2 separate regions of the Homo sapiens genome follow, and region 2 is linked to region 1. Evidence: fine-mapped expression QTL. Tissue or cell type: whole blood. Region 1 holds a variant in brackets; the other region holds the start of a gene. All regions are shown on one strand. Distances are from middle to middle.

Region 1 (2,678 bases):
TGTAAGTTAGGACCTGGGAGGAGCACTGGAGAGGGTCTCCCTGTGGGGTGTTGAGGCTCTGAAAGCAATTGCAGCCGTGTTGGGAGAGGCTACTTGGGGTTTCTGAGAAGGCCCTTGGAAGTGGGGTTTTGGGGGTGCTGGTAGACTGGGCAGGCCTCACACTCTCCCCTCTCCCTAGTGAAGTACCTGGCTTTCCTCCGCAAGCGGATGAACACCAACCCTTCCCGAGGCCCCTACCACTTCCGGGCCCCCAGCCGCATCTTCTGGCGGACCGTGCGAGGTGAGCAGAGCGTGGGGACTGCAGGTGGTGACGGGCAGGCGGCCGGTGATGAGAACTTCTCCCACTCACATTCGAGTTTCCCGACCATGAGATGACTCCACATGCACTACCATCTGAGGCCACCCCATGGGCCCACCTCAGTGGGGTGGGTGGGCATCCTTATGAGGCCCTCTGACTGGGCCTGCTATCTGTCACCCAACAGGTATGCTGCCCCACAAAACCAAGCGAGGCCAGGCCGCTCTGGACCGTCTCAAGGTGTTTGACGGCATCCCACCGCCCTACGACAAGGTGAGCTATGCCAAACCCCACAGGCAGCGGCCTTACCTGTGGCGTCCATGATGTTCCGCAACTACCTACATTGTTTGATCCTCATGAAAGCAGCACTGGCTGAGACGCCAGTCCAGCCGACCTCCTTCCCTGTCTGTCCCTCCCGGGCTCTTAAGCCCCTCTCTTTCTCTAACAGAAAAAGCGGATGGTGGTTCCTGCTGCCCTCAAGGTCGTGCGTCTGAAGCCTACAAGAAAGGTGAGTCCCAGCTTACGCTGCACCATCTACTTGGGAGATTTCAGGCCTGCTGAGGGACCTGGGGACCTGGAGCCTGGCAGATGATGTCCTTATCTCACGATGGTCTGCGGATGTCCCTGTGGGAATGGCGACAATGCCAATGGCTTAGCTGATGCCAGGAGGCTTGGGTGGGTGCTTTTCTAACAGGCCTGCAGAGAACAGTTGCATTATGATATGCCCAGCTGTCAGTCACCTCCCAGCTCTCAACAGCTCCGGCTCTTCAGGGTGTGGGGGCTTAGATATCCTTACAACTTCATTTGTTCACCCCCCCCCCCCCCCCCCGCAGTTTGCCTATCTGGGGCGCCTGGCTCACGAGGTTGGCTGGAAGTACCAGGCAGTGACAGCCACCCTGGAGGAGAAGAGGAAAGAGAAAGCCAAGATCCACTACCGGAAGAAGAAACAGCTCATGGTGAGGCCAGGGGCTGGTGCTGAGGGGGGCATCTCACTCCTGGACAGGCCTGGCAGGTGCCTTGCTCACAGAGTACTCTTAACTGGCAAAGGACCAGCCGGGGTTGGGGTGGGATGCAGTCCATGTAATGAGGGCAATGCAACCCCTCCTGACCACCACCACCTGCACTTATTCTTGGCAGAGGCTACGGAAACAGGCCGAGAAGAACGTGGAGAAGAAAATTGACAAATACACAGAGGTCCTCAAGACCCACGGACTCCTGGTCTGAGCCCAATAAAGACTGTTAATTCCTCATGCGTTGCCTGCCCTTCCTCC[A/G]TTGTTGCCCTGGAATGTACGGGACCCAGGGGCAGCAGCAGTCCAGGTGCCACAGGCAGCCCTGGGACATAGGAAGCTGGGAGCAAGGAAAGGGTCTTAGTCACTGCCTCCCGAAGTTGCTTGAAAGCACTCGGAGAATTGTGCAGGTGTCATTTATCTATGACCAATAGGAAGAGCAACCAGTTACTATGAGTGAAAGGGAGCCAGAAGACTGATTGGAGGGCCCTATCTTGTGAGTGGGGCATCTGTTGGACTTTCCACCTGGTCATATACTCTGCAGCTGTTAGAATGTGCAAGCACTTGGGGACAGCATGAGCTTGCTGTTGTACACAGGGTATTTCTAGAAGCAGAAATAGACTGGGAAGATGCACAACCAAGGGGTTACAGGCATCGCCCATGCTCCTCACCTGTATTTTGTAATCAGAAATAAATTGCTTTTAAAGAAATCTGGCGTCTTTGCACTGTGTCTGCTGTGGAGGCAGGCCCCTGGCAAATGGGGGGTGAGGAGCTTGAAGAGGGTAGAATGGGCTGTGCTAATATACAGAATATATGTAACTTGCTATAAATTGAATGATCCTTTATAGACACCGTTTACAAACCAAAGACATAAAATGTGGCCAGCAGTGCCTGGTGCTTCCTAGTTAATGTAAAGCTGTCTCATTCTAATTCAGCTGCAAAGTATGGACCCATGCCCTGCTGCCAGGCTGCTGTAGTCCCGGCGGTCTGTAGAGACTAGCATTTTGCAAATGATAAGCACTAGAATAACAGATAACGCTAGGCTTTATGCACTAAGAGAACCCATTAGATCTGCCAGTCTGAATCCCAGAAAGGGCACTGATACAGAGCATTTAGTACTAGGTAGCAATTTCATAAAATGTCCCTGGTCAAAGCTTGCTGGAGCAGGCCCCGTTCCCATTTTACTGATGTCTAGCAGTCGTGTTCAGTAATACGTCATACCCAGGTCTCCACGCTAAACAGCCTAAACACTAAAAGTAAACATGCTGTGAAGTAAAGGAAGCTAGATTCATGCTGTCCTTGCGGTTGGATGCCAAGATTCAGGAGTAACTGTTTGTTACCTGTATACTTACATGTACAACCTTACCCCAGAGAAA
Region 2 (2,678 bases), 21 kb after region 1:
GGAAGGAAGGAGGCAAGGAAGGAAGGAAGGAAAGACTTCATATTATATGATTCAATTTCTTTGAAATGTGCAGAATAGGCAAATCTATCAAGACAGAAAGCAGATGAATGGTTGCCAGGGGTCTGGGAGCAGCGGCTGTTTAACGGGGACAGACCTTCTGTTTGGGGTGATAAAAAAGCTCTGGAACTCGGATAGAGGTGACAGTTGCACAGCACTGTAAATGTGTTAAATGACAGTAAGGGTAAATATTTTGAATATTTTACCACAATGAAATAAGTGTATGGGAAGCTTTGTAGCAGGAGTGTGGGCGGGGGCTGGTGCCTGGAGGGGCCTTCGAGTGAGGCAGCATTGTATGGGGACCATGTGGTCACTGAAGTCCTAGCAGAAGGATGTGGTTTTTTTTTTTTTTTGAGACGGAGTCTCGCTCTGTTGCCAGTCTGGAGTGCAGTGGTGCAATCTCGGCTCACTGCGACCTCCACCTCCCGGGTTCAAGCAATTCTCCTGTCTCAGCCTCCCGAGTAGCTGGGACCACAGGCCCACCACCACGCTCAGCTAATTTTTGTATTATTAGTAGAGACGGGGGTGTCACCATATTGGCCAGGCTGGTCTCGAACTCCTGACCTCGTGATCCGCCCGCCTTGGCCTCCCAAAGTGCTGGGATTACAGGCGTGAGTCACTGCGCCCGGCCCGCAGAAGGATATTAAAGAGCACCTGCAGGAATTTTTTAAGGGGATGCCGGGGGAAGGGCTTGAAGGAGGAACTAAGGAGGCTTCCAGAAGATTTTGATTAACAGCGAGCGCTAGGGAAGGCCACGGGGATACAGAGGGGTAGGAGGAGGATCCAGAGACCTCCAAGTTGTGGACTCCGGAGGCATCGAGTTCCTTTCCCAGTTTTGTCAAGAATTCCCTGAGCGGCAGACACCCTCAAAGTAAAAAACGGGAACCACAGAGAAGGAAAAAGAAGAACCACAAGCGTTTTGAGAAACAAACAGGCTGGGCCTAGGGCCTGGGGTGTGCCCTGCAACTGGGGGGTGGGGCTGGATGTTCTTGGAGTCAGGGAGCAGCAGCCTCCCACAGGATGTGAGAGAGGAACTGGGGTCTCCAGTCACGGGAGCCAGGAGCCGGCCAGGGCCGCAGGCAGGAAGGGAGCGAGGCTGAAGGGAACGTGAGCCGACCAGGGCCCGACTGAGGGAGGAGGGGCTGGGGGCCTGGAACCCTGGGTCTGAGGGAGGAGTGGCTGGGGGTCTCGACACTGGGTCTGAGGGAGGAGGGGTGGGGGCCTGGATTCCTGGGTCTGAGAGAGGAGGGACTGGGGGTCTGGACGCTGGGTCTGAGGGAGGAGGGAGGAGGGGCCGGGGGGGCCTGGACTCCTGGGTCCGAGGGAGGAGGGGTTGGGGGCCCGGACTCCTGGGTCCGAGGGTAGAGCGGTTGGGGGCCCGGACTCCTGGGTCCGAGGGTAGAGCGGTTGGGGGCCCGGACTCCTGGGTCCGAGGGAAGAGCGGTTGGGGGCCTGGACTCCGGGGTCTGAGGGAGGAGGGGCTGGGGCCTGAGGGGGGCGGAAGGGGCGTGGCGGAGCTCGGGGCCGGGACTCTCAGCCTATCAAGTGTCTGTAATTAATTAACCAACTGAGATCCAGTTCAGGGGTGAAAGTTCTTCAGGTACGAGGAGGGCATTGTTGTCAGTCTGGACCGAGCCCGCAGAGCCCCTCCTCGGCGTCCTGGTCCCGGCCGTGCCCGCGGTGTCCCGGGAGGAAGGGGCGGGCCGGGGGTCGGGAGGAGTCACGTGCCCCCTCCCGCCCCAGGTCGTCCTCTCAGCATGGGGGTCCCGCGGCCTCAGCCCTGGGCGCTGGGGCTCCTGCTCTTTCTCCTTCCTGGGAGCCTGGGCGCAGGTGAGGGCCGCTCCGGGCCAGGGCCCTGCTGCAGGCGGGCGGCGGGAGGCGGCCCCAGGCAGGCAGGGGCGAAGCCAGCGGGACCCGAGTTCCCCGCGAGCCCCTGGCGCTGCCTTCTCCGCTCAATTAACTTTCTCAACGTCTCCTGCTGGGCCTGAGGCTGGGAACCACCTGTCGCCTCTTGTGTCTGTTTCCCTCTCTCTCTCTGGGTCTCTGTCCCCCTCTCTTTCTGGGTCTCTTGTCTCTCTCTCTCTGGGTCTCTGTCCCCCCCCCCCCGGGTTTCTGTCCCCTCTCTCTGAATCTGTCCCCCTCCCTCCATAATAGATTCTTCTCCCTCCCTGGGTATCTGTCCCACTGCAGTCTAGTTCCCCGCCCGTGTGCTCCCTTCAGCTCTGTTTCTGTCTGCAGAAAGCCACCTCTCCCTCCTGTACCACCTTACCGCGGTGTCCTCGCCTGCCCCGGGGACTCCTGCCTTCTGGGTGTCCGGCTGGCTGGGCCCGCAGCAGTACCTGAGCTACAATAGCCTGCGGGGCGAGGCGGAGCCCTGTGGAGCTTGGGTCTGGGAAAACCAGGTGTCCTGGTATTGGGAGAAAGAGACCACAGATCTGAGGATCAAGGAGAAGCTCTTTCTGGAAGCTTTCAAAGCTTTGGGGGGAAAAGGTGAGATTCCGGTCTGGAGGGGCAAGGGGCCGGGTCCATGCTCCGGGGCCCCGCTTACCTGTGTTTGGGCGCCCCAGGTCCCTACACTCTGCAGGGCCTGCTGGGCTGTGAACTGGGCCCTGACAACACCT

What was found. PIP is the estimated chance that this variant, and not a neighbour inherited with it, causes the effect.
Region 2: FCGRT starts here. The variant in region 1 is fine-mapped to the expression of FCGRT in whole blood (TOPMed, PIP 0.97).

What each region holds. Positions count from the first base shown.
Region 1 is chr19:49,490,297-49,492,974 of GRCh38, forward strand. RPL13A (ribosomal protein L13a) reads left to right here. Exons shown (of 8, transcript NM_012423.4): 3 at 1; 4 at 179-280; 5 at 483-568; 6 at 744-803; 7 at 1,129-1,251; 8 at 1,433-2,012. The coding sequence ends at 1,519. It overlaps SNORD33 (small nucleolar RNA, C/D box 33), which reads left to right and starts at 321; the gene lies at 321-403. SNORD34 (small nucleolar RNA, C/D box 34) reads left to right here and starts at 611; the gene lies at 611-676. SNORD35A (small nucleolar RNA, C/D box 35A) reads left to right here and starts at 879; the gene lies at 879-964. RefSeq lists enhancers at 311-914, 2,080-2,319. The variant A/G (reference allele first, on the strand shown) is at 1,567.
Region 2 is chr19:49,511,587-49,514,264 of GRCh38, forward strand. It overlaps FCGRT (Fc gamma receptor and transporter), which reads left to right and starts at 1,075. Exons shown (of 7, transcript NM_001136019.3): 1 at 1,075-1,164; 2 at 1,801-1,887; 3 at 2,296-2,547; 4 at 2,625-2,678. The coding sequence starts at 1,815. RefSeq lists enhancers at 95-657, 2,585-2,678.